Linked DNA regions of Homo sapiens. The protein of the gene in region 2 interacts with the protein of the main gene of each other region in a pairwise test. Each region holds a gene or a part of one and is shown on either strand. Other genes may lie near its edges.

Region 1 (7,411 bases), on a different chromosome or scaffold from region 2:
GACAGAGTGAGACTCCGTCTCAAAAAAAAAACAGCCAGAGGAGCAGTTTTTGGTCCATTGATGTGTGCAGACAGAAGCCGAACCCTTTCCTATGGTAACCAGACTTGTACCCGATATTATTAATACATTCCTGATTTCACACACACACAAAGTGTGTTTGGTGGTTGTTTTTTAAGTACCGTGGTGGGGAGGAAGGGGAATTTTTTTTTTTAATCAAAGCAAATAGTTTTGTTTTTGTTTTTGTTTTTTTGTTTCTTTGTTTGCCTATTTCCTTTAACCTGACAAGTATGCGTACCAATGGCTAGGCTGATTCGGATAGGTGGCCAGTTGTGTGAACACGGTGGCAAAATTAAATTGGACTAGAGTTTTCCACAAAAAACAAAAAAAAGACCCCTCCAATCCAAACATCCTTTGTGTAAAAATCAACTTGTATTATAACTAGACCTGTGAGTATTTCAAGTCATAATATGTACGGAAGATATTTGTCTACACCAAAGCAAAACATAACAAAACCAGAACCCCTGTTAGCCCAGGACTTGCACACATTTCTAGTCCGTTCAAAACAATGTTTATGTCAAAGCCTGTCATATCAATTTCCTGGAAAGTATAATGTAAACATTCTTACATTAATTTACCTATTTTAATCTAAACCAAGGAAATTCAAACGCAAGTTTTTTTCCTTTTCAATGAATGGACTTTTGTAATATTAAACTAGTAATCAAGACAGGAACAGCTGTGAGTATAAGCTATTGTGAGTCAATACAAATATAATACCAGGGCAAGAAAGAAACAATGAATAATAAGAAGCAATAAACAAAATACTACAGTTTAAATGAATTTTAAGAGAATATTTAAAAATTAGAGTTTTCATAATATTAGATAGAAAACTTAATCATCTATTATTTTCAGGCTTTGGGGGAAAACATGTCCTTCCAAAGTCTATGGTGCAATGCATTCAAATCTTTAAGAGAAATTAAAAATAACAGAATAGGCAAAATACCTTTTATCTGGTTTTTTTTTTACTTTGATTAGCTTCTTTTACTAACATGTTTTGTCTTAATATAATTTATGGCAACTTGAAATGCATACTCTAATTCTTCTCAAACTAAATATAGTAGAGGCTCTATGACATTTCTTTGGATACCAGAATCCCTTTAGAAATTAATTGATTTGCCTTTTACATAAAAAAGTTTTATTTATTTATGTTTTTGACGGGTCAGGTCTCTCTAGGAACATTCCAAAAGCACAGAGACAAGAACTATTCTAGCACTGCAATAAGACCAAAAATTAATTTCTATGCATTTTCAGAGGTAACTTTAAATCACCATTTTAAAGTTATTTTTAGAACATTTGAAAGGATAAGTTATCTTAGACTACAACATTTAATGAAATACTATAATTAAAATGGATAATCAATAAATTTTCATTCAATTTTGGAAGACAAAACAACACGAAAAGCAACTGAATCAACAGGAGTTTCGGGGACCTTTGGCAGACAGTTAATAAGATGAAAAATCTGTGAATGAAACTCGTGGGTGAAGAGTAGACAGATCTCTTCGTTCCCAGCTAGACCTCAGTGGCGACCATTTGAGAGTGATTTTAATCAGAAACCTTGACTGACAGGACCTTTTAGGAGGGGAGAACTTCGGGAGAAAGGAGGCTGGGAATGAACAAATCACTTTCTTCTGCTAGGACCCTTCGGCTTTGACTGGGAGGAGGACCCCAGCTAGAAGATAAAGGAGGAAAAAATCGCGAGGAACTGCTCGAAGTTGGCCTTTCTTCCCAACAGAGTTCGCTGGTCCGCTGCCACTGGCAGGCTTCTCTGACCGACTGGGATACTTTTTCTTTCTTCTTTCCTTTTCTTTTTTTTTTCTTTTTCTTTTCTTTCTCCTTCCTTGCTTCCTTCCTCTCTCTCTCTCTCTTTCTTTCTGTCTTTCTTTCCTTCCTTTTTTTTTTTTTTTTTTTTGAGACAGGGTCTCGTTCTGTCGCCCAGGCTCGGCGCTATCTCAGGTTACTGCAACCACTGCCTCCTGGATTCAAGCGATCCTCCCGCCTCAGCCTCCCAAGTAGCTGGGACTACAGGCACACGCCACCATGCCCGGCTTTTTTTTTTTTTTTTTTTTTCGAAGAGACAGGGTTTCGCCATGTTGCCCAGTCTGGTCTTGCACTCCTGGGCTCAAGCGATCCTCCCGTCTCGGCCTCCCAAAGTGCTGGGATTACAGGCATGAGCCACTGCGCCCAATCGCGGGATGGACTTTTCTAAGCAAGCCTCACTGTGCCTTTGGCGCGGGAAGTAAAAGGACAGGGAGCGTGGACCACCCTTAGCTTCCTGATGTGGTTTCGCTCTTCCTTTATCCGCCTTTTGCCAACCGAAGGCACTAATCCTGCAAGAGGCGTTGGCATGGGCGCCCTCCTGGCCGAGTCCCGGGCAGCACCCGTCCGTGCGCTCAGCACGGGCTTTGCGGTGCCAAGGCCTAGGGTGCGTCGCTTCCCGGGTCTGGAGGGTCATGGATTCGGTTCATCCTCCTCTATCAAGGGATCTGCCGTGAGGAGTTGGCTCCTCTTCTCTGGCTGGGGCTGGGAATGGAAGCGTGCAGCTGCAAAACAAGGACGCGGGCAATAAATTCCAGAAGCCCTTTCCCCTGGCCGCCAAGAATCCGGCCTTGGGGTAGTCAAAGAGTGACTTTAGTCACTTCAATCGGTTTTGTTTTGTTTTGTTTGTTTTTTGTTTTTTGTTTTTTTTATATATATATATACTGAGGGTCTCCATGTGCCGGAGTAGCCCTGGGCGAGTCGGCTGCTCAGATGATGAAGGTTTCGTCCCAGCCCCGGAGAACCCACATTGTCCTGCGCACCTCCGCACCACCGCGATTCTCTAGTCCTCCAAAGCCTCCCAAGACTGTAATGGAGTAAATTCAATTTCGTCGTGATATTTCCAAGACTATATCAGTGAAGTTTTTTTTTAAGAGTTGTGGGCCGGGCGCGGTGGCTCACGCCTTTAATCCCAGCACTTTGAGAGGCCGAGACAGGAGGATCACGAAGTCAAAAAATCGAGACCATCCTGGCCAACTTGGTAAAACCCTGTCTCTACTAACAATACAAAATTAGCTGGTCGCGATGGCGCGCCTGTAGTTCCAGCTACTCGGGAGGCTGAGGCAGGAGAATCGTTTGAACCTGGGAGGCGGAGGTTGCAGTGAGCCGAGATTGCGCCACTGCACTCCAGCCGGGAAGACAGAGTGAGACTCCGTCTCAAAAAAAAAAAAAAAAAAAAAGATTTGTGTTCGGGTGGGTGGCAACTGAGAGCTCGCCGAACCACAACCTCTTATTTAACAGATAAACAGATAAGGAAGCTGAGACCCAGAGGGAGCCAAAGCAGTGGAGAAAGCGAGTTCTTTGGGACTTTTCCCCTCTCCCCTTTCCCTCCTTCCCCAGGCTCCCACCTACCCCAGGCTCCCACCTACCCCGGGCTCATTTCCGCCCCCCACCTCCTCCAGGTTCACTTTGTAGGACTCCGTTCCTGCAGGGCCAGGTCCCTCCGAAGTCCCCGGGAGCGTGAAGGCGCCTGGGCTCGCGAGCATACGCGGAGGCTTGGCGCACCCTGGCACGTCCCAAACAGCAGAGCCAAGACTGCGAGACACTCACAATAGTTAGGGGAAGAGCCGGCAGTGGAGGCCCAAAATGGGCTGACCCCTAACTAGGAGGCGTGGGCGCGGTTATTCAGGCTAGGGCGCACGCGGACGGCAGAGGGGCCCACGCACGGTTCCCATGCTCTCCTGGAATTGAGTGTTGGCTCTCAGGGGACTTTGCTGGAAAGCCTCCATCTAAGCCCCTTTCCGAAATCAGGGAAGCTGGACGCGTTTAGAAAAAAGAAAAAAAATAGGCCGGTCGCGGTTGCTCACGCCTGTAATCCCAGCACTTTGGGAGGCCCAGGCGGGCAGATCGTCAGGAGTTCAAGACCAGCTTGGTCAGGGTTTCGCATGGCTAAAACCTGTCTCTACTAAAAATACAAAAATTAGCCAGGGTGGTGGCACGGACCTGTATTCCCAGCTACTCGGGAGGTTGAGGCAGGAGAATCGCTTGAACCTGGGAGGCAGAGGTTGCAGTTAGCTGAGATGGCGCCACTGCACTCTAGCCTGGGCAACAGAGTGAGACAAAAAAGAAGAAAAGAAAAGAAGAAAATAATAAGGTTTTAAACTTAAAGGATACATTCCTACTTACCCTCTCCACCCCCACCCTCTGGCTGCAGTTTCCATTTGCTTCCAGGGCTGAGTTTAACCTCCACCTCCGTTCCTGGGACTGTGGTGGAGGGGGCGACCGGCCCCTGGAGCGTGGGCGCTAGCGAGGTAGGCGAGACAGGGCGGAGCCCCCCGGAGGTATATCTTTATAAAGGAGGGGGCAGCTGCCAGAGGTCGATGCTGCCGTTCGGGTGGAGAACGTTCAGCACCGCGGCCAAGGACAAGGCCCCGCCCGGGTCCATAACCATTGTCCCCAGCTTCCAGATATCTAAACAGCCTCTCTCTCTTTCTCTCTCTCTGCACCTCCCCTTCACACACCCCACTTTCTTCTTTAAAGAGAAGAAAAAAAACCCACCTGGCGCACCTGTCCTTTTTTCTTCTATTTTTCAGAACCCTGGGCGGAAAGCGCGAGCGAGTTGGGCAGATGCCGGCGGCCGCGGTGCAGGAAGCGGTCGGCGTGTGCTCCTACGGGATGCAGCTCAGCTGGGACATCAACGATCCGCAGATGCCTCAGGTAAGTGAACCGGGTGTGTGCGGGCACGCGGGGCGCTGTCCATCCGAAGGAGGGAGAATGGCATTCGAGTTCTTGAAGAGTCTGCGGACGGACCATACACACACACACACACACACACACACACACACACACACACACACACACACACATACCCGCAAAATTTCTGGGTTTCTGAGGCCCTCTCAAGTGTAGAAAGAAAACTGGACTCTACAAAAGGCTGAGTTGGGTTTAGAAATGTGTCTTCTTGGCCGGGCGCTGTGGTTCATACCTGTAATCCCAGCACTTTGGGAGGCTGAGGCGGGTGGATCATCTGAGGTCGGGAGTTCAAGACCAGCCTGACCAACATGGAGAAACCCCGTCTCTACCAAAAATACAAAATCAGCCCAGCGTGGTGGCGCATGCCTAAAGTCGCAGCTACTCGGGAGGCTGAGGCAGGAGAATCGCTTGAACCCGAGAGGCAGAGGTTGCGGTGAGCCAAGATCACGCCATTGAACTCCAGCCTGGGCAACAAGAGCAAAACTCCATCTCAAAAAAAGAAGAAGAAGAAGAAGAAGAAATGTGTCTTCTCCCAGCAATTTCCTTGTGCTTGCCTGAAATCACAAGCAAAGCAGCAGGAAATGTTGGTCAGGCTCCACATTCCCAGTCTTGGGGAGAGCGGGACGCCTGTCCTTTCACTTCCCTTTAACCAAGGTAGAAATTAGGTGCCTCTCTCCTTATTCATTTACTTTAAATCCATGAGGAAGCTAAGGAGAAAATCTAAGCAGATGTAAATACCACTGCTTCTCATGCAGCAAAACTGAGGTACAACTGTAAAGTGAATCTAATGACCTAAATTTAAAACAAGTAGCCCGACTTGAGCAATTTGCTCAGACCTCCCTAACTGCTCAGAGGAAGGAGGCCCCATAGTCATGCCAACAAGGCCACCTGTACCCAAAACTTACTTCTTCTCTAATGACAAGCAAATCATCATTCTTTTAGGGTGAATTTGTTGTATTTTGCTTTATTTCAATAAAGCAAAAATGGTTTGGAGCCAAGTCCAAAGAATGACTGGGGTGGATGAAGTGGTGAATGAAGTGGGTGGTTTGAAGCCAGTTCCAGAGAATGACCAATTATCATTAGTCACACTGGTTAGGGCCAAAATTGAGTGATGTTGAAGTCCTGGCTGTAGGGGGTGGGGGGTGTAGAATGAGAGTTGCTTCCCTGCCATTTGCAGATGTGGGCTTCCAGCAATGTTGTGGCACAGGGATAAAAGAGATGGGTCATTTTGTCCGCAACTAAAATGTGTCTGATAGGTGTTCAGATGAATAACAATTCATTGCAACATTGTGTCGCCTCTCATAGAGGTCAGCACTTTTTTGGATCCATATATTTGTAGTAGGTTAGGTGTGTTTTACTCCTTTGTTTTTGTTTGTTTGTTGGGGTTTTTTGTTGTTGTTTGTTTGTTTTTTGAGGCGGGGTTTAGCTCTTGTTGCCTAGGCTGGGGTGCAATCACACGATCTCAGCTCACTGCAACCTCCATCCCCCAGGCTCCAGCGATTCTCTTGCCTCAGCTTCCCGAGTAGCTGGGACTACAAGCATGCGCCACCACGCCCAGCTAATTTTGTATTTTTAGTAGAGATTGGGTTTCTCCATGTTGGTCAGGCTGGTCTCGAACTCCTGACCTCAGCTGATCCACCCGCCTTAGCCTCGCAAAGTGCTGGGATTACAGGCGTGAGCCACCGTGCCTGGCCCACTCCTTTGTTTTAAAGTCTGCCTACTTTAGAGTCACATGGTACCATTTTCATGAAAGTGGACCACAGTACAGCAAGTGCATCTCATTCTGTTTCTGTCCATGTACATCTTCACAGGAAACAATCATATCTTGCATTTTAGAAAAGTCACATCCAAGTAATGTAATTATGGTTCATCTCTCAAGCATTTGCTAGACTTCCCATGTCAATATGAACTTTTTTTTAGGAGACTGGTTGTTAAGCAGGAAGCATGTGTGTAATATCTCAAACGGGCCAGGCACACTGGGACATGGAGAAGTGAAGAAACTTAGCATCGCCCTGCTCTGGGTAACCGAGTGAGCAAGTTAAACTACCTGTCTGACCTTGAGAGAGTCCTTGAATTTGCCTTAGTCTCAGGCTACTTACTCACTTGTCATCAAGTGGTAGAGTGAGATAACCATCTCAAACTCTCCTCCAGGTCTACGATCAGGTTCAGTGTCTATGTGTGTGTATGTACACACACACACAACATGCCAACACTTGAGAGCAAGTGAAACCCAATCCTTGACATCCTCTATTCTTGTACTGATTTTAAAAATACAATCTCTGTGGCTTCATTGCCAGGGTCACTACCTCAGTAGCTCGTGTGAGGCATGGGGGCCTAGTCTACATCCTTAAGGGAGAGCTAAAGAAATGCTGTTTTCTGGAAAATTGTCAATTTGTTACTAAGATCCTTAAGTTAAAATATTCACTTTTAAAACAAAGATATTAGCATTTAATATAAGCTTGGAGTTGATAGCACATCATTATATATTTCATTTGTGACTTACCTTACATTGATGTATCATGTCAATTGTAATATTTCAGAGAAAAGATAAATAATACCTATGGTAGTAATAATGATTTCAACAATATCTTTGTAATTTTGGAAACAAAATCACCCATTAACCTTA
Region 2 (7,015 bases):
TTTTTCCGGCCCACCCATGGCTGCCCATGGACCAATAGGCATGTACCTCCTCCCCTGTGAGACCCATAAAAAGCCCCTGACTCAGCCAGACCAGAAGAGACGATGGGACGACCAGCTGCGGGGAGGAGCTACCCTCTCTGCTGAGAGCTGGAGAGATGACAGGACAACCTGCCCACAGAGAGGAGCTACTCTAGCCAGGGAAGCAAGCAGGCATGCCAGCTCTTTCTTTTCCAGTATTCCTGGGCCCAGTGGGGTCTTCTCACTCAGTTACAATATTTGATCTAAGAACATTCACTTTCCAACTGATCAGAAAGTAAAGGTGACTGGCATGGTGTGGCTGTGAGAGATGCAGTGTGACCTCAGAGGTGAACATCAGTGCCGGGACCATTTGGAGCAGGATGTGGTAACCACCAAATGGAAACCACGGCCTTTTGGCTCGACCTAGAGCATGAATGTAGCAAAGCGAAGCCCTGTACACTTTATAAAAACCAGCAGAAAGACACTCCAGTCTGAGTGAGCAGCTGGAACAAAGCTCTGCTGAGCTGAACACTCAACAGGACTACCTGCCTGCAGAGAGAGGAGCTATCCTCTTTGCTGAGAGCTGAACACTCGTTGGGACACCCTGGCTGCGGAGAGGAGCTGCCCACTGTGGGTCTCCTCTGAGCTATCCTATGGCTCAGTAAAGCTCCTCTTTGTCTTGTTTACCCTCTGCTTGTCTGTGTGTACCTCATTCTTCCTGGATGCAGGACAAGAATTGGGACCTGCTGAGTGGCGGGGCTAAAAGAGCTGTAACATGAAGAGGACTGAACCATGCGTCTTGCTCGCCACATTGTGGGTGTCCAGAAGGAAAGAAGAACTGCGGCCCTTTGGGGAGTCCAGACCCAGGAGCTTCCCAAGCTGGGGTTCTGACACCCTCTTTAGGGCTCTGCGGTTCCTGGTATCTGCAAGCTTCCAGGCACCACCATGCTTCCCAGTGTCAGCTGTGGAAGCTGCTTATGGTACACCTGGTCTAGCTGCAGCCTTGCAGGAAACCAGCACCTGTGTTGGCACCTGAAGCTGCCTGCCCCACCGCAGCCCACATGCCTAGCTGTGCGCAGTGGCCAAACCCCACACTCATTCGCTCACACACCCCTCGCTGCCCCACTCGCCCTTGGCAGGTGTGGGATCCAGGCCGGTAGCATGAGCTGAGCACAGCCTGCAGGGCCGAGTGGGCCCAATGGGCCCGAGCAAAACAGGCAAAGGCATCACTGGCCACAGAGGTTTCCAGCTGGTAAAGCAACACCCCAAAGATCCCGTGACAGTTTATGGCTGCGGTGAGCTATTATTGCGTCACTGCACTTCAGCCTGGGCAACAGAGCAAGACTCTGTCTCTTAATCTCAGCGAGTACAACAGGAAGATGTACTGAGCCCCAGACCACCCCATCTCTCAAGGTGACTGCTTGGATGGGCTGGCGTGACTGGGAAGGCCTTTGCCACTTTGCTGTCTCCTGGATTCCATATCTACTGGATGGGTGCCATCTTGCCTCTAGCCAGGGAAGCAAGCAGGCACACCAACTCTTTCCTTTCCAGTATTCCTGGGCCCAGTGGGGTCTTCTCACTCAGTTACAATATTTGATCTAAGAACATTCACTTTCCAACTGATCAGAAAGTAAAGGTGACTGGCATGGTGTTGCTGTGAGAGGTGCAGCGTAACCTCAGAGGTGAACATCAGTGCTGGGACCATTTGGAGCAGCATGTGGTAACCACCAAATGGGAACCACGGCCTTCTGGCTCGACCTAGAGCATGAATGTAGCAAAGCGAAGCCCTGTACACTTTATAAAAACCAGTAGAAAGACACTCCAGTCTGAGTGAGCAGCTGGAACAAAGGTACCACCTGAATAGAGGGTGTGTGGCAAGGGCAGGCACGAGACAGGAAATCAGACTGGAAGAGTAGGTTGGGCCTGGTCATGCGTGCCAAGGCAGGCAGCATTCTCTAAGGAGCAGTGGTAAGCCATCAAGGCATTTGTTACTAGGGGTGTGACAATATGAGATTGTATTTTCAGAAGATGACTGGGGCTATGATGATGAATGCTTTGGGTGGGAGTGGAATTAAGCCAGAGAAACCAGCTAGTTCACTACTGCAACCATCCAGCCAGGATACTGGAGACTTTTATTCAACATTAGGCAAATACTTGCTGAGCACATGCTATGTGCTAGGTACTGTTCTAGGTCCCAGGGGTGCATCAGTGAACAGACAACTGTCTCTGCCCTTGTGGAGTTCACATTCTAGCAAGGGTGAAAGAATGATAAACAGTTTATGTAGGTGAAATACATATATATATATATATATATATTTTTTTTTTTTTTTTTTTTTTTTGAGATAAAGTCTTGCTCTGTCACCCAGGCTGGAGTGCAGTGGCACGATGATAGCTCATTGCAGCCTCTACCTCTTGGACTCAAGTGATCCTCTGGCTTCAGCCTCTAGCGTAGCTAGGAGTATAGGTGCATGCCACCATGTCCAGTTAATTTTTAATTTTTTTGTAGAGATGGGGTCTCCCTACGTTGCCAAGGCTGGTCTTGACCTCCCGGCCTCAGCAATCCTCCTGCCTCTGCCTCCCAAAGTGCTGGGATTACAGACATGAGCCACCACGTCTAGCCCTAAAATATATAGCATGTCAGATGGTGATGAATGCTAACGAGAAAAAATACGGAAAGGGATATAAAGATTTGCAGCAGGGGGACAGATTATAAATTTAGAAAGTATAGTCAGAGAAGGAAGTCTTATCAATGTGATATTTGAGTGAGGACCCAAAGGAGGTAGCTGGAATGTGGATGCCAGTGGAGGAGAGGAGACGGTGGGTTTGAGAGACATAGGAGACAGAATCAACAGGACTCAGAGCCAATCAGTAGGATGACGGGAGTGAAGGAGAAAGCTGAGTCAAAAAGATTTTGATTAGAGGTGACACAGGGCCACTGTAGACCCCTGCGCAGGCGGCACACCACGCAGCCTGCCGAAGTGTACGTGGTGGCCCTGGGTGTCTGGAGATGGTGATGCTGTTCAGCAGGACCCAAACCATAGCCGAGCCCTTCCTTTTCCTCCATTGGTGTCATCTGGTAGTTTGTCTTCCCGGGTAAGAAGGTTGTAAATTTCTTAAGATGATGATTGTGTCATCCCTGATAGCCCCAGATTAGCCAAGCCAAGTGCTGAGCACATTCCTGGTGCTCAGTAAATGTCACTGTTAAAGGGGGCTTCCCAGAGCCACACAACACCCAGAATAGCCCGTGGCCATGGGGCCTCAGCCTTACTCATTCTGGAGCTCCCAATGCCACTTCCATGGTGGCCTTTCCTGGTAGATGCTAGGAGGCTGGCCTCTCCAGGGTGGGAAGGCATAGGGTCCACTGTGCAGACACAGCCCCACAGGGGATTTGGCTTATGGGCTGGGTAGCAGCCTCTGGCCCTGTGGACGGTCAGGGCCCATGCTGGTGTGTGTGCGTGATGCTTTCTGCTTTCATTTTTCCGTCCTCATCTTTCTATTACTGGTTGTCCAGGGTCCTTTGGTCACCAACGAGCATTTCCCAGTGACACAGCGCGGCCTTTCCAGGGAGGGCATCTCTTGGGCAGGGACTGGGTGCTGCAGACATCAGCCCTTCCATCCCCTGTCTTCTTCTTTCTCTCAGAGCTCTGCGTGCCTCTTGCTGTGCCCTACCTGGACAAACCCCCAACTCCGCTCCACTTCTACCGGGACTGGGTCTGCCCCAACAGGCCGTGCATTATCCGCAACGCTCTGCAGCACTGGCCGGCCCTCCAGAAGTGGTCCCTCCCCTATTTCAGGTGGGAGCTGCCCTGGGGTCAGGTGTGAGCAGTGATTACTGGCATCTGGGCATGGGCTGAGTGTCCATTCCTCTAGAGCCACAGTGGGCTCCACAGAGGTGAGTGTGGCCGTGACCCCAGATGGTTACGCGGATGCCGTGAGAGGGGATCGCTTCATGATGCCAGCTGAGCGCCGCCTGCCCCTGAGCTTCGTGCTGGATGTGCTGGAGGGCCGGGCCCAGCACCCTGGAGTCCTCTATGTGCAGAAGCAGTGCTCCAACCTGCCCAGCGAGCTGCCCCAGCTGCTGCCTGATCTGGAATCCCATGTGCCCTGGGCCTCCGAAGCCCTGGGTGAGTGGAGGTGGGGTGGTCGTGGCCCTGGACAGGGAAGATATGGGAAGGAGGGGGGTCAGCCTGTTTGCCCTTAGGTGATGACCTGGCCTATGGGCTTGGTCCTGTCAGCATCTGGTGCAGCTCACTAAATACATTCCCAGGCCTTGACTTAATCATAGATGAATTGCCAAAGATTGTTGTCCTTCCTTCTGCCCCAGGGAGGGAGGACCCCTTCCCCAAGATTTCCCAACCTCTGCCTCTTCTCCCTGACCCCTTTCTTGGGATTCTTCTGTGCTCACCCAGGTTTTGGCTCTGGCATCACTGGATGGCAGCTTTCCCCAGCCTGGCCTTCCTAACTTGCTCTCTGCCTTCTGCCCTGCAGGAAAGATGCCCGATGCTGTGAACTTCTGGCTGGGGGAGGCGGCTGCAGTGACTTCTTGTAGGTGTAAGGGGAATACAAAGGTGGGGAAGGAGCAGGTTGGGGCAGAGGGAGGGAAGACGAGGCCAGGAGTGGAGGGATGGCCCTGGGTGGAGGTTGGGCTGTTCTCTAAGATTTCTTTTGGCTTCTAGGACTCGGGCACCACAGAGGGTTTCCCCTGACAGCTGAGGTCGGGGAATGGACCCATGGCATTGGGGGCGGGTGCATTGTTTCTTCTAGACCCAAAGAAACCTCCCTGAAGGCCCGCTGGGCCAGGGGGTAAGTGTAGGAGAACTTCCCCTCTTGTTGAAGAGGAGTCCAGGGCCTGGTGAGCATCAGGTCCCTGGTAGGCAGAGTTCCAGAATGCCCATCAGAGCCCCTGGCATCTCCAGCCCACTGGCTCTGTGCGTGCTTCTCTTTTGTCATAGGACGTCTTGGGGTGCAGGGCTCTCAGCATGATGGTTTGCCTCCTCCCGTGCCCCTGCCCTCCATACCCTGCCCCCGGGCCTTCTTTCTGTTGGCAGTGCACAAGGACCACTATGAGAACCTCTACTGCGTGGTCTCAGGAGAGAAGCATTTCCTGTTCCATCCGCCCAGCGACCGGCCCTTCATCCCCTATGGTAGGGGATGTGGCCTGCAGGGAGGGGCTGGGGAACAGCTGGCCCAAGGGGGAGGGAGGCAGCAAGAGCCTGGGAGGCCAGTTCCCAGGCCTGAGGTGTGGCTGTGGCATCCCCAGTGCACCAGGGCCCCTGATCCCCTTGCCCCTGCCCAGGGCTGGCTGGGGTGGAGGAGGGTCTGGCAAGTTCCAGGCTGTTTGCAATTCCCCCACACCCTTCTCCCTTGGGCTCCAGAGCTGTACACGCCGGCAACCTACCAGCTAACTGAAGAGGGCACCTTTAAGGTGGTGGATGAAGAGGCCATGGAGAAGGTGTCTGTCCTGTTCTTGGGCTCTAGGGAGGGAGAAGGGCAGAAGCCTGGCTCTGAAGAACAGGCACAAAAGATCTGGGGAGGTGGCACCTTGCTCTGAAAAGTCTCTAAGTCTGAGGCCTTTCACTGCTGAGCCAAGCAGGGCCTGTGGTGTTGACCTTTGGAAGGGACAGAGCCTGAAGTCCTGGGGGGTCTGGGGGGCTGCTCCCTGGCATCTGATGTGTTCCCAGGTGCCCTGGATCCCACTGGACCCCTTGGCGCCAGACCTAGCACGGTACCCTAGTTACAGTCAGGCCCAGGCCCTTCGCTGCACGGTGCGGGCCGGTGAGATGCTCTATCTGCCGGCTCTGTGGTTCCACCACGTCCAGCAGTCCCAGGGCTGCATCGCAGGTGAAGAGTTGCCCAGGCCGCCTGGGGAGAGGCCCTGTCAAGGTCCAGCAGGGCCTCTGGGGGGAGGCTTGGGAGGCTCTAGGTCAGAAGAGGGATCTTCATGCTCAGATCCCCGTTCTTCCCACAGTGAATTTCTGGTATGACATGGAATACGACCTCAAGTATAGTTACTTCCAGCTGCTCGACTCCCTCACCAAGGCTTCAGGCCTTGACTGATGGAGCACTGGTGAACACCACCAAGCACGCCTCGGGGGACGGAGCCAGCCCCTCCCTGGCCAGGTCAATTCTCGAGAGAGCCTGGAGTGTGCATGCTGGCTGCTGGCCCCGGGTCCAGCATGGCTTGAGATCAGCTTTGGAGGATCTTGGAATGTGGTCATAAGGACTCAAGGTGCCAGGCAGGTCTGGGTGAGGGTTCTCAGGAAGTTGCCACACAGGTGAGCAGAGTGGGGATCAGGTGCAGCGGCACCTCTCCCCAGCGCTGTGATGTTGGGCGAGTCACTGCGTCTCGGGCATTGGTGTCCTGTCAGTAAAGAGATAATAATGGCTGTACCTCGCGGGGCTGTTGTGGGCTTGGAGATGATGTCTATGAGGACCAGCATGGAGCTGGCACACAGGACATGTTGAATAAAAGGTAGCTGTGAGTCGTATGTCCTTTTTTTTTTTTTTTTAAGATGGGGTCTCGCTCTGTCACCCAGGCTGGAGTGCAGTGGTGTGATGTCAGCTCACTGCAAGCTCCGCCTCCCAGGTTCACACTATTCTGCCTCAGCCTCCCAAGTAGCTGGGACTACAGGTGCGTGCCACCATGCCCGGCTAATTTTTTTGTATTTTTAGTAGAGACGGGGTTTCACCGTGTTAGCCAGTATGGTCTTGATCTCCTGACCTCGTGATCCACCTGCCTCGGCCTCCCAAAAGTGCTGGGATTACAGGTGTGAGCTGCTGCGCCTGGCTTATGAGTCGTATGTTCTGATCCTCCCTCTTGAAGTTGCCTTCTGTGGTCTAAGGAGGGCCTGAAGGTTCAGGTAAAAACTTCAGGGTGACCTTCACTGGGGGTGAGGGCTGGATCCCAGCCTGGGCCCAAAGAGCCGTCAGCTGCCCAAGTCCCGCTGTCCATGAGAGTCACCGCAGCCCCTCCCTGGGACAAGCAAGCAGACCTGAG
Region 3 (7,025 bases), on a different chromosome or scaffold from region 2:
ATCAGTTTGGGGAAATAATCTTTCCAGTAAAGGCAGGGAGAATGTGTTATAGGTGAGCTCACTGACCAAGATCTGGTACTTTGTCTCTCTTTTAAAGCCCCAGGTACCCAGTTTGTTAAGCCGACAGTTGGAGTTCCACAAGTGTTCTCCCAGATGACCCCTGTGAGGCCAGGCTCCACAATGCCTGTGAGGCCCACCACCAACACCTTCACCACCGTCATCCCGGCCACTCTTACCATTCGAAGCACCGTCCCACAGTCCCAGTCCCAGCAGACCAAGTCCACTCCCAGCACTTCTACCACTCCCACTGCCACACAGCCAACCTCACTGGGGCAACTAGCTGTTCAGTCTCCAGGCCAGTCAAACCAGACCACGAATCCCAAGCTAGGTAAGGCTTCGGAAGAGGAGATGGCAGAGCCAGGTTGGGATGGTGGGTGGAGAACAGATGATTATCACTTGGTCACCGTAGCTCCCTCCTTCCCCTCTCCACCTGCAGTGAGCATTGCCAGCTTTGTCACTGTGAAGCGACCTGGTGTTACAGGCGAAAATAGCAATGAAGTGGCCAAATTGGTGAATACCCTTAACACCATCCCTTCCCTGGGCCAGAGTCCTGGGCCAGTGGTGGTGTCCAACAACAGCTCTGCTCATGGCTCTCAAAGAACCAGCGGACCTGAGTCTTCAATGAAAGGTACAATAACCTGAAAGACTCTGAGCAGCCAGTCATTCAAAAACATTAATAAAGTGTTTGTTGTATCAGAGCTTTATACTCAGAAATAGAAAAATAAAATAAAATACAGCTGCTGTAGTTTGTTCTTACAGAAACTTTAGTAAGGAGAAAGCCACTTACAAAAAGTGTAACTGAATCAGCTCCAAGAAATTATGTGTGTAATTGTGCTTTGGAGATTAGTGAAATTGATTGATTAAAGATGGGTGAGATAATGAAAGATAACTTCATGGAAGAGATGGATTTCTGAGCAAGGTTTTAAAGTTAGGATTTGGTAGAGAGATCTTCAGGTTGAGAATGATGAGCATGAGGGTTTTCAGTGGTCTAGAGCAGGGGTCGGCAAATGTTTTCTGTAAAGGGCCTAGTAGTAAAGTTGTAGGCTTTGTGCACAATATATAGCCTCTGTTGCAGCTATTAACTGTGCTGTTGTGGTGGGGAAGCAGCCACAGATACATAAACGAATGAGCATGGCTGTGCTCCACTAAAAACTATTTATGGACTCTGAAATTTAAGTTTCATAAAATTTTCATGTGTCGAAAAGTTTTATTCTTTTATTTCAACCATTTAAAAATAAAAACCGCAAGGTATAGTGGCTCACACCTCATCCCAGCATTATGGGAGGCCAAGACGGGAGGATCACTTGAGCCTAGGAGTTTGAGACCAGCCTGGGCAACATGGTGAGATCCCATCTCTACAAAAAAAAAAAAAAAAAAGATTAGCCAGGCGTGGTGGTGTATGTCTGCAGTCCTCGCTACTCAGAAGTCTGAGGTGAGAGGATGGCTTGGGCTTGAACCCAGAAGGTTGAGCCTGCAGTGAGCCATGAGCATGCCACTGCAACAGAACGACACCCTGTCTCAAAAAAAGTAAAAACCTTTAAAACATGGTGTTGGGAAAACTAGATATCCATGTCCAAAAGAAGTTGGATCTTACCTTACAATAAATACAAAAATTAACTCAAAATGGATCAAAGACCTAAATGAACTAAAACTATAAGACTCTTAGAAAAATTATAGGACAAAAAGCTTCATGATACTGGATTTGACAGTGATTACTATTTCTTGGATATGACACCAAAAGCATACGCAAGAAAAGAAAAAATGAGTAAATTAAATTATATCAAAATTTAAAACTTTTGTGCAGGACGTTGTCAACACAGTGAAAAGGGAAGCCACAGAATGGGAGAAAATATTTGCAAATTATGTATCTAATAAGGGGTTAATATCCAGAATATATAAAGAATTTGTGCAGTTCAACAACAAAAAAACTCCCAAACAACCTTTTTAAAAAATAGACAAAGGACTCGCTGGTCGTGGTGGTTCATGCCTGTAATCCCAGCACTTTGAGAGGCCAAGGCAGGTGGATCACGAGGTCAGGAGTCCAAGACCAGCCTGACCAATAATGGTGAAACCCCGTCTATACTAAAAATACAAAAATTAGCCAGGCGTGGTGGTGTGTGCCTGTATTCCCAGCTGCTCGGGAGGCTGAGACACAAGAATTGCTTGAACCTGGAAGGCAGAGGTTGTGGTGAGTCGAGATTGTGCCACTGCACTCCAGTCTGGGCAACAGAGAAAGACCCCATCTCAAAAAAAAAAAAAAAAGTAGGAAAGTAGGCAAAGGACTGAATAGACCTTTCTCCAAAGAAAGTTATTGCCAATAAGCTCATGAAAAGGTGCTCAGTGTTATTAATCATTATGGAAATGCAAATCAAAACCACAATGAGGTACCGTCTCACTCCCATTAGGATGGCTACTATCAAAGAACCATAAAATAACAAATATTGTTGAGGATGTGGAGAAAGCAGAACCCTTACGCACTGTTGGTGGAAATGTAAAATTATGCAGCCACTTTGGAAACAGTATGGTGGTTCCTCAAAAAGTTAAAAATGATAGAATTGTTGTATGCTCCAGGAATTCCATTCTATACCCAAAAGAATTGAAAGCAGGGACTAGAACAGGTATTTGTACACCTATGTTCATTGCAACATTATTCACAATAGCTGAAAGGTGAAAGCAACACAGAGGTCCATCAACTGATAAAGGGATAAATAAAATGTGGTATTCACATACAATGGTATATTGTTCAGGCTTAAGAAAGGAAATTCTGCTACAACATGTGCTGCAACATGGTTGAACCTTGAGGACATTATGTTAAAGTGAAATAGGCTAGTCACAAAAGGACAAGTACCATATGATTCCACTTACTTGAGGTACCTAGAGTAGTCAAATTCATAGAGACAAAGTTGAATTGTGGTTGCCGGGGTGGAGGCGAGGGGAGAATGGTGAGGAGGTTTTTATTGGATATAGCTTCAGTTCTGCAAGATTAAAAAAAACAAAAACCTTAACAAAAAAATCACATACAAATTATTCTTAGCTTATGGGCCAAACAGAAACTGGTAGCTGGGCTGGATTTGATCTGTGTGCTGTGGTTTGCTGACCCCTGGCCTAGAGTTAGAACAGTAAAAGGAAGCCTCAAACATAGTGATCTTGAGCCCAGGGAGGTCAAGGCTGCAGTGAGCTGTGGTCGTGCCACTGCACTCCAGCCTGGGCAACAGACTGAGAGACCGTGTCTCAAAAAAAACAAAAACAAACAAAAACCATAGTGATCTCTCATGCTTGCTTACCCTTTTATATACTTCTCAGGGAGTGTTTGACTTTTTCCCAAAAGGTCAGTAATCTTTTTCCAGTGTCATTGTATTAATCTTATCAATTCTTCTCACTTCTTTCAGTGACCTCTTCCATCCCAGTATTTGACCTCCAGGATGGTGGACGGAAAATATGTCCACGATGTAATGCTCAATTTCGTGTTACTGAAGCTTTGAGAGGTCACATGTGTGTAAGTGATATCACCTGTGATCCAGCTTAAGTGGCTTCTGCCATTTACCTTCATTAATATTGGAAGCTTGTAAGCAGGGGCTCTAAAATGACTGAAGCTTTTTAAAGGGTTACTGTTTCTCTTGGTCTGTTTTTAGAAGAGCTGTGTACTTTGGAATGTGATGGGATACATTTAAAGACCCTCAAATAGATCAGAACATATGTGATCTTACTTTCTTAGTGTGGTAGATTTTGAAACCACACAGGAGAACAGGTTTATAGATAATAAGGACTCAAACCATATTGGCCTCAGTTCATTTTTGTTAATTGTGTCATTGGATGAATCGGGAGCTCTTACTTCCATTTTTTAGCTTTTCATTTTTTGGTATTAGTCCAGATAAAAAGGTTGGAACTTCTTCTTTGCCAGGGAGCTCAGAGCCAAGTTATACTAATGATTAAGGGACCTAAGACAGGCAGGAGGGAGAAATACAAAGTATAGCGCTTGGGTGGCATATGTGGATATACTCTAGAAAAGGAGTAAAACTTGGAAACGCTAAAAAAAACTGAAGGGTGAAAGCTGAATGAGAATACCTGAAACCAAACCGTTAACAAGGAATGGTAGTGAAGTTAAGGAGTTAGCACATTCTAGCCCCCAGGATAACCAGAATGATCAGATGTCTTTCTTTATAGTACTGTTGCCCAGAAATGGTTGAATACCAGAAGAAAGGAAAGTCCCTGGATTCAGAACCCAGTGTCCCATCAGCAGCAAAGCCCCCATCCCCTGAGAAAACAGCTCCTGTTGCTTCCACACCCTCTTCTACACCTATTCCTGCTCTGTCACCGCCTACCAAAGTACCAGAACCAAATGAGAACGTGGGCGATGCCGTCCAGACCAAACTCATTATGCTTGTAGATGACTTCTACTATGGACGGGATGGTGGCAAAGTAGCCCAGCTCACAAATTTCCCTAAGGTCGCCACATCTTTCCGATGCCCACATTGTACCAAAAGGCTAAAAAACAATATTCGGTAAGTGTTTAAGAGCCTTGGAAGTTACCTTGAACAAGAGAAGACTTACATTTTCTTATATATTTTAAGTCTTTCTCTTTGGAGAATGGACCTAACTACTATGCAGTCTTGCTGGGGTTATCATTAAATCAATAACTAGGACTATAGAAGGAGATATTGTGGTAATAAACAAAAGGTAACTGGATCGAGTAAGGGAAAGCAGTATGTCTCCTTTCCCAGAACTCTCTTAGTTTCAAGAACTCATTATCTTTCTGGGCTCAGAAAAGGATATCCCAAACAGGAAGTCTGGGGAATGGAGGGGAGCAGATAATGTTTGTTCTGTGATTTTACCATTATATTTCTAAAAGGCTACCAATTTTTTATGTTTTCTGTACTTTCTCTTTGTGCTTTATTACAGATTCATGAACCATATGAAACACCACGTAGAACTCGATCAGCAGAACGGTGAGGTAGATGGTCACACTATCTGCCAGCACTGTTACCGCCAGTTTTCCACTCCCTTCCAGCTTCAGTGCCACTTGGAAAATGTTCATAGTCCCTATGAATCTACTAGTAAGTTTGGAAACTCTTAAACTCAAGGGGAATATACCTTGCTGTTCACTCATTGAATGGCGCTGGGGGGAGCCCATTATATTTATTTACATGTGGGTAACAGTGTAGAGGAAGTACTTTTCATATTTGTAGCCAGTTCTTTACTTCATTCACCTTGTTTTTTTTTACAAGCCTGACTTTTATTTTGTTCAAGCATGGATTGAGTTCAGTGTTAGATCCTGAATTGTTAGGGGCGTTGATTCAGAACCACTGTAGAAAAACAAATGTAATTAATTTATTTCTTAGGTCTCTTTATAGAAGGAACAGTCATCTATTTGCTCTTCCACTTTAGTTAAACCCTGATAGGTTTTATGTAGGCTAAAAGATAATATTGTGAAGTACTTTATCATTAAGACATTGCTTTCAATGAAATATAAGATGAGCTGGAGTGTTTTCTACACTGTATATTTTATACATGTAGGCTGGACATAAGCTCAAAGAAATTAAGTAGGATAAAAGATAATATGGCCGGGCACGGTGGCTCACGCCTGTAATCCCAACACTTTGGGAGGCCGAAGCAGGCAGATCACCTGAAGTCAGGAATTCGAGACCAGCCCGGCCAACATGGCGAAGCCCCATCTCTACTAAAAATGCAAAAATTAGCTGGGTGTGGTGGCGGGCACCTGTAATCCCAGCTACTCGGGAGGCTGAGACAGGAGAATCGCTTGAACCCGGGAGGCGGAGGTTGCAGTGAGCTGAGATCATGCCATTGCACTCCAGTCTGGGCAACAAGAGCAAAACTCCATCTCCAAAAAAAAAAAGATAATATTATGAAGTACTTTATCATTAAGACAGTGCTTTCAGTGAAATATAAGGTAAGCTGGAATGTTTTTCTACACTGTACATTTTATAGATAGATGTAGGCTGAACATAAGCTCAAAGAAATTGAGTCATTTGCTTATGAGCGTACACCTCTAAATACACCTCTACTGGGGATACATAGTGAGGATTTAAGCCCAGTATTGAGAATACTTCTCATGTCCTTTACGGGATTTCCAGTTTTGTTGTAAAGACAAAAATTATGTAAATATAGGAAAATGTGAGAACAAGATAGTATATTATAAACATAGACATTTTAAGATATCATTGATAGGTGAAATACTTCAGAGAAGGGAAAAAATCCTTGTGGCTAGGTTTCCAAGAAAGTCGTGCTTAAATTTAAGAAAGGTTTAGATGGATGGAGAGTAGTAAGAAAAGCTTTTAGGTGATTGAAAACAGCATGATCAAAAGCATAGAAGACATATGCATATTATCTGGATGCATTTGCTACAAGTAAAAATCCTTAACTAAAAATGAATTAAACAATAAGGACTGGGTGTGGTGGCTCACACCTGTAATCCCAGCACTTTGGGAGGCTTAGGTGGGTGGATCAGTTGAGGCCAGGGGAGACCAGTCTGGCCAACATGGCAAAACCACATCTCTACTAAAAATACAAAAATTCGCTGGCTGTGGTGGTGTGCGCAGGTAATCCCAACTACTCAGGAAGCCAAGGCATGAGAATCACTTGATCCCAGGAGGTAGAGGTTGCAGTGAGCTGAGATCGCACCACTGCACTCCAGCCTGGATGACAGAGCGAGTCTCTGTCTCAAAACAAAAGAAAACAATAAGAATATCTGTTATATCATTTAACTGAGAGATACAGAAATGGATGCTTCAGCCTAGAATTTGACTGCCCTGCTGGTTTTCAACAATTCTCTTGTCTCTGGCTCATAGCAGGGTGGCTGTATAAGTGTCAGGCACTATGTCCAGATAAAAAATTGTTAGACAAAGAAGAGATCTTATCTTCCCATCTTTCTTTCTTGAATCTGTTTTCTTATGAGTGAGAATTGCTTTCCTTTTATATCTCTTTGACCATTTATTGGCAAGGGAAGT
Region 4 (6,363 bases), on a different chromosome or scaffold from region 2:
TGGTGCATGTCAGAGAGCCCTCAGCCTCACCTTCCTTGTCCCCTCCTCCTCCTGAGGCCAGACTCATAACCTCTCTCAGAGAAAGGGAGGTGGCACCCTCTGGGAAGCTGATGGAAATGCGTCCCTCATGTGCCCTGGTGAGCATGCCTTCGCATGAGCACACATCAGAGGGACCACGGGTGCACTGCACGTGAAAGGCAGGCATGTGTGATCCCAAATACCTGTTGCAGCGGCGGGCACAGGGAGGCCTGCAGCCCAGGCAGCCCTCCTCTCCAAGTCCTGGTCTCTGCTCAGCACATGGTGATGGGGCTGTTTCATGGGCCCCAACCCTGCTCCAAGCAGGCCTGGTGTCTGGGGGCCAGGTTCAAGACCATCTCCCATGTGGGGCAAGAAGCACCAGAAGTTTCTGTTTCACCTCCCACCAGGTGATCGCCTATGGGCAAGGCAGCAGCGAAGGCCTGAGACAGAATGTGGACGTGTGGCTGTGGCAGCTGGCAAGTGGGGCCCAGGGACAGGGTTGCAGAACCCCCTGCCAGAGGGCATCAGCCCGCTCCTCGGCCCTGGGCTCCCACACGGGGCCCACTCTTGGGGCCTTGGGGCCCAGGCAGACTCAGACATTCACCCAGGTGATGAGGCCCAACAGTCTCCATTTGATTCTCCTGCTCCTCTTCTCCAGGAGGGCTCCTCGGTGGTGACAATGGGGGGACGGCGCCTGAGCCTGGCCCCTGATGACAGCCTCCTGGTGCTAGCTGGGACCTCGTGAGTACGCAGGGAGGGCTTTCCCTGGGATCCTCAGGGTCCAACTCTGTGTGATCCCTGCTCATCTGTGTGTCCACAGGTATGCCTGGGAGCGAACACAAGGCTCTGTGGCCCTGTCTGTGACCCAGGACCCTGCCTGCAAGAAGCCCCTGGGGTGACCCTCTTGCCATGGCCTGAAGCAGCCACAGGTGTGCCAAGCACCCTCGAGTGCCATCCCTGCCAAACAACTCTCCCAGCCCCCACTACCTCTCTGTGTACTGCCGCTGTGTCCCCCACAGACCTGCACATTGTTGTCACCCACCCTCCTGCCCTTCTCAGCCCAGATGCCATGCCCCTGGGCGGGCAGCAGCTCCCCATCTTCTCTGGCAGACTCAGCCCACTGCCTTGCCAGTCTTGCCAGGTGGTCTACCCCCGGCCCCGCTCCTGCCCATTCCTCTGTCCCTGCAGACTCAGTGCAGCACTTCCACACCAAGAAGGCCCTCAATAAAGGCTTCCTGAGGAACGCACACCTGGGGGTCTGCCGCAGGCAGTCATCACTGGCCTTCCCATGTGCCCCCCAGGACCATGTGGTGTGTCTGGGGCATCAGGGCACCAGGTGACCATGGACGTGTTGGAGGGTCTGTTATTGGGCATCCCTGTTTGTGGATGGGCATTCTTCACTGTGTGTGTGACTTGATCCACGCATGCTCCATGCCTGGTCCTGGGAGCACGGCTAATGTCATCTCTCCACTTCCTTCTCTGTTCTCATTTATTCTTTTTACTTTTTTTTTTTTTTTGAAACAGGATCTCACTGTCACCAAGGCTGGAGTGCAGTGGTGTGATCAGAGCTCACTGCAGCCTTGACCCTCCTGGCTCAAGTGATTCTCCCACCTCAGCCTTCTGAGTAGCTGGGACTACAGGCATGCACCACCACACCCTGTTAATTTTTTTTTTCTTTTTTGTAGAGATGGGGATTTCACCATGTTGCCCAGTCTGTCTTTTTACATAACTTTAAAACACTAGCATCTGTTGAGTTTTTTTCCAATAACAGAAGTCATCTGTGCTAACTATAGAAAACCCAGAAATACACAAAATCCCCCACCCAGAGCTAACCACTGTTAATACCTAAAGACTATGATCAGCCTGGAGAGGGGCATGAAGTTGTACCAGGAGCTCAGCAGTGTTGGTGGGGGTGTCTGGCCTTGTGTCCCCTTCCCTCCCCTGTCATGCACAGGTGCCCTGTTCAAAGACTCCAGAGGGACCCCTGAGCCTGCTATGGGTGTCTAGGGATGCTGGAGGCCTCAGAGGCACCAGTGGGAAGAGACAAGAATGTGGAACCTGCAGCGGGCGCAGCTCAGTTTCCTGGGACTTCCGTGAGAAGTCAATGAGGGCATGCACATGAGAGTGACAGATCTGGACAGAACAGGTCCCTGCGTGGACTCAAAGCTTCCTCTAGAAAAGAACACTTGACCCCTGTCTCCCTCATCCCCAGCCCAGTGGCTCACTGCCTTCCTACACTCCACTGGGAGCAGAGAAAGACCTGCCTTTGCTGAAAAGGCTACTGGCCCTAAGAGACATCGGGACCTTCAACCTCCTCGTCACCCCTAAGGGCTTTCCTCTCCTGCAAGCAAAGAAAAAACACCATCAGGCTCCTTCAAACACAAATGGTCCAGGATAGGCACAGGCAGAGGCTCCACGCGGCTCGTTCCTGGCCTGTAGCAATGCACTGCTCCGTGCAGGACCTGAGAAGAAGACATAGAATGTTCCAGGGAGGACCCAGGTCAGAATACCGATGGCCGTGAAGAGAAGAGTTTACTCTCATATGCAGGGCAAGCTTAATCCAGAGAGAAAGTCATGAAAATTAGATCTGTTTTTGTGAACACTCGCTCTGTCCCAAGGAATCCCCTAGAAGTTTGTTTTTTTTTTTTTTTTTTTTTTTGAGACGGAGTCTCACTCTGTTGCCCAGGCTGGAGTGCAGTGGCGCGATCTCAGCTCACTGCAAGCTCCGCCTCCCAGGTTCACGCCATTCTCCTGCCTCAGCCTCCCGAGTAGCTGGGACTACAGGCACCTGCCACCACGCCCGGCTACTTTTTTTGTATTTTTAGTAGAGACGGGGTTTCACCGTGTTAGCCAGGATGGTCTCGATCTCCTGACCTCGTGATCTGCCCGCCTCGGCCTCCCAAAGTGCTGGGATTACAGGCTTAAGCCACTGTGCCTGGCCTATAAGTTTTTACATAAATTATCTCATTTTATCCTCACAACTCTCCAAGAAGGTGGTAGTGCCTGATTTTACAGATCAGGCTCAGAGAGGTTTGGAAATAGGGCAGCTCTGTTTCCAACCCAGGCCTGTCTGCATATGGAGCTTAGGCTGGGCCTCACCACCCTGCTTCTCCCAGGGATGTTTGCCCTCAGCCTTGACCAAATGGGAGCCCAGGGCAGCCAAGAGAGGCCAGGGGCCACTGTGCCTGGGACACAGAGGCCAGGCCACACATGGCAGACTGCTGACCCCAGCCAGTTGGCAGTGATGGGGTCAGGCCCTGGAGCCTGGAACCAGCACCTCCCTTGGCCCTGCTGTCCCGGGTTATCAGGAGCCTGAAGCCCTCATCTCCACCCACAGGACCAGCCCATGGGCTCATGAGAATACCTCACCATGGGACAGCTGGACTTGTACCTTGTCTGGAGCTAGCCCCAGCCTCCCACTCCCTATTCCGCAGTGAATGCTAATGGGGGCAAGGAGTGGAGTGGACAAGGAGCCATGGGGAGACACAGACAGGGAAAAATCAGGATTGTTCTATTTGCGGGAGAAGCCCCCAGCTCCCCGTGCCATGGCAGTAGAAATTTGGCAGGGGCGTCCCCGTCCATGGGGCCTACTTCACCGTGTACCCGGACTTGGGACCATCACAGACTTCGGAACCATCAGGAACCTGGGAGCAACTGAAAGCTGAACTACAGTGGGCTTTCAGACACACAGCAGGCTGGCGGAGCACAAATAGGACTGGTTCCCTCCAGGCCACCAGCAGGGCGGTGGAGGTCTTCACTGACTCCCTGCCTACCTCTCAGGACAATGTCCTTTTGGCTCCACAGTCCCTGAAGCCAGAGCTGGTGGGGGCAGGGAGGCAGCCACCAGCCTCTATATGTAGTGGAGGAGGGGGTGTCCAGGGAGGGCTGCATGATCCTGAGAGCCCCCACCTCACCCGGCTGGACTATCCTCCCACTTCAGGGTTTCTCTGGGCTTCCATCTTGCCCCTGCTGAGCCCTGCTTCCTCCTCTACCAGCAGCACAACCCCCAGGCTGGGCTCAGAGACCTCATGTGGTGGGATCACTCAGTACCCCGAGGCGGAGGGAAGGAGGGAGGGCTGCAGGGTTCCCCTTGGCCTGCAAACAGGAACACAGGGTGTTTCTCAGTGGCTGCGAGAATGCTGATGAAAACCCCAGGATGTTGTGTCACCGTGGTGGCCAGCTGATAGTGCCAATCATCCCACTTTGCCCTGAGCACTCCTGCAGGGGTAGAAGACTCCAGAACCTTCTCTCAGGCCCATGGCCCAAGCAGCCCATGGAACTTCATAACCTGAGCTCTCCATCTCCCTCTCTCTCCTCCTCTGTTCTCCCTCCCTCCTTCTCTCCCTCACCCTCCTCTGCTCCCTCTGCCTTTACCACTGTGGGGGGGTCCTCTGGAGGGCCCTGCCACCCCACCTCTTCCTCGCTGGTGTCTGCCTTCCTGGCACCAATCCTGGCCCTGGAGTTTGTCCTGGGCCTGGTGGGGAACAGTTTGGCCCTCTTCATCTTCTGCATCCACACGCGGCCCTGGACCTCCAACACGGTGTTCCTGGTCAGCCTGGTGGCCGCTGACTTCCTCCTGATCAGCAACCTGCCCCTCCGCGTGGACTACTACCTCCTCCATGAGACCTGGCGCTTTGGGGCTGCTGCCTGCAAAGTCAACCTCTTCATGCTGTCCACCAACCGCACGGCCAGCGTTGTCTTCCTCACAGCCATCGCACTCAACCGCTACCTGAAGGTGGTGCAGCCCCACCACGTGCTGAGCCGTGCTTCCGTGGGGGCAGCTGCCCGGGTGGCCGGGGGACTCTGGGTGGGCATCCTGCTCCTCAACGGGCACCTGCTCCTGAGCACCTTCTCCGGCCCCTCCTGCCTCAGCTACAGGGTGGGCACGAAGCCCTCGGCCTCGCTCCGCTGGCACCAGGCACTGTACCTGCTGGAGTTCTTCCTGCCACTGGCGCTCATCCTCTTTGCTATTGTGAGCATTGGGCTCACCATCCGGAACCGTGGTCTGGGCGGGCAGGCAGGCCCGCAGAGGGCCATGCGTGTGCTGGCCATGGTGGTGGCCGTCTACACCATCTGCTTCTTGCCCAGCATCATCTTTGGCATGGCTTCCATGGTGGCTTTCTGGCTGTCCGCCTGCCGATCCCTGGACCTCTGCACACAGCTCTTCCATGGCTCCCTGGCCTTCACCTACCTCAACAGTGTCCTGGACCCCGTGCTCTACTGCTTCTCTAGCCCCAACTTCCTCCACCAGAGCCGGGCCTTGCTGGGCCTCACGCGGGGCCGGCAGGGCCCAGTGAGCGACGAGAGCTCCTACCAACCCTCCAGGCAGTGGCGCTACCGGGAGGCCTCTAGGAAGGCGGAGGCCATAGGGAAGCTGAAAGTGCAGGGCGAGGTCTCTCTGGAAAAGGAAGGCTCCTCCCAGGGCTGAGGGCCAGCTGCAGGGCTGCAGCGCTGTGGGGGTAAGGGCTGCCGCGCTCTGGCCTGGAGGGACAAGGCCAGCACACGGTGCCTCAACCAACTGGACAAGGGATGGCGGCAGACCAGGGGCCAGGCCAAAGCACTGGCAGGACTCAGGTGGGTGGCAGGGAGAGAAACCCACCTAGGCCTCTCAGTGTGTCCAGGATGGCATTCCCAGAATGCAGGGGAGAGCAGGATGCCGGGTGGAGGAGACAGGCAAGGTGCCGTTGGCACACCAGCTCAGACAGGGGCCTGCGCAGCTGCAGGGGACAGACGCCAATCACTGTCACAGCAGAGTCACCTTAGAAATTGGACAGCTGCATGTTCTGTGCTCTCCAGTTTGTCCCTTCCAATATTAATAAACTTCCCTTTTAAATATATTTATTTGCAAGACCAAATATCTGTCTTTAATTCTAACCTGGGACTGTCAGTAGGCGTCAAAGTGAGCGCCCCAAGGTGAAGGGAAACTTGGGAGAGAGTGGGGAAGCCATCCCACAGCCCCATCCCAGGGGGCACTGTCCTTCCCAGAACTTCTGGGAAGCCCCGGCATGTCCTGAAAGGCAGAACTGCTTTCTTGGGTGAGGCCTCAGGCAGGCCACCAGGGCTCCAGGCCCTCGGGTACAGAGTTTGATGCTGGGGACCTAACATCCCTCCCCAGTTCCCTCAATCCACTTAGCCCAGCCCTCTCATATCATGGACAGGACGCACCCCAGCTACTAAAGTCGTCAGGAATAGAAGTGAAAGCCCAGAAGTGTCACACACAGACCAGGAGGGTGGCATCAAGGGTCCATGTGGATGCTGGGGAGGGAGCGAGAGAAAAAGTATCAGGCAGAGGGAGGTGGGCCCGGGAAGGATGAGCGGGTGAGTACCAGACCCCGCCTCCACCGT

What was found.
Region 1: the proteins of JMJD7 (region 2) and GCM2 interact in binary tests that used the Homo sapiens proteins (3 or more experiments, as listed by UniProt).
Region 3: the proteins of JMJD7 (region 2) and POGZ interact in binary tests that used the Homo sapiens proteins (3 or more experiments, as listed by UniProt).
Region 4: the proteins of JMJD7 (region 2) and OXER1 interact in binary tests that used the Homo sapiens proteins (3 or more experiments, as listed by UniProt).

The regions. Positions count from the first base shown.
Region 1 is NC_000006.12:10,879,042-10,886,452, reverse strand, and holds the start of GCM2 (chorion-specific transcription factor GCMb), read left to right. Parts: upstream 1-4,411; 5' UTR 4,412-4,659; coding exon 4,660-4,749; intron 4,750-7,411. UniProt on the Homo sapiens protein: Transcription factor that binds specific sequences on gene promoters and activate their transcription. Through the regulation of gene transcription, may play a role in parathyroid gland development.
Region 2 is NC_000015.10:41,831,082-41,838,096, forward strand, and holds the end of JMJD7 (bifunctional peptidase and (3S)-lysyl hydroxylase JMJD7), read left to right. Parts: intron 1-3,658; coding exon 3,659-3,812; intron 3,813-3,888; coding exon 3,889-4,142; intron 4,143-4,506; coding exon 4,507-4,563; intron 4,564-5,066; coding exon 5,067-5,162; intron 5,163-5,393; coding exon 5,394-5,470; intron 5,471-5,699; coding exon 5,700-5,859; intron 5,860-5,986; coding exon 5,987-6,075; 3' UTR 6,076-6,500; downstream 6,501-7,015. Other genes in the region: JMJD7-PLA2G4B protein, read left to right, coding at 3,659-3,812, 3,889-4,142, 4,507-4,563, 5,067-5,162, 5,394-5,470. UniProt on the Homo sapiens protein: Bifunctional enzyme that acts both as an endopeptidase and 2-oxoglutarate-dependent monooxygenase.
Region 3 is NC_000001.11:151,421,486-151,428,510, reverse strand, and holds part of POGZ (pogo transposable element with ZNF domain), read left to right. Parts: intron 1-97; coding exon 98-388; intron 389-469; coding exon 470-688; intron 689-3,449; coding exon 3,450-3,556; intron 3,557-4,224; coding exon 4,225-4,562; intron 4,563-4,959; coding exon 4,960-5,114; intron 5,115-7,025. UniProt on the Homo sapiens protein: Plays a role in mitotic cell cycle progression and is involved in kinetochore assembly and mitotic sister chromatid cohesion.
Region 4 is NC_000002.12:42,761,991-42,768,353, reverse strand, and holds OXER1 (oxoeicosanoid receptor 1), read left to right. Parts: upstream 1-4,218; 5' UTR 4,219-4,291; coding exon 4,292-5,446; 3' UTR 5,447-5,855; downstream 5,856-6,363. Other genes in the region: HAAO (3-hydroxyanthranilate 3,4-dioxygenase), read left to right, coding at 426-494, 677-759, 839-917. UniProt on the Homo sapiens protein: Receptor for eicosanoids and polyunsaturated fatty acids such as 5-oxo-6E,8Z,11Z,14Z-eicosatetraenoic acid (5-OXO-ETE), 5(S)-hydroperoxy-6E,8Z,11Z,14Z-eicosatetraenoic acid (5(S)-HPETE) and arachidonic acid.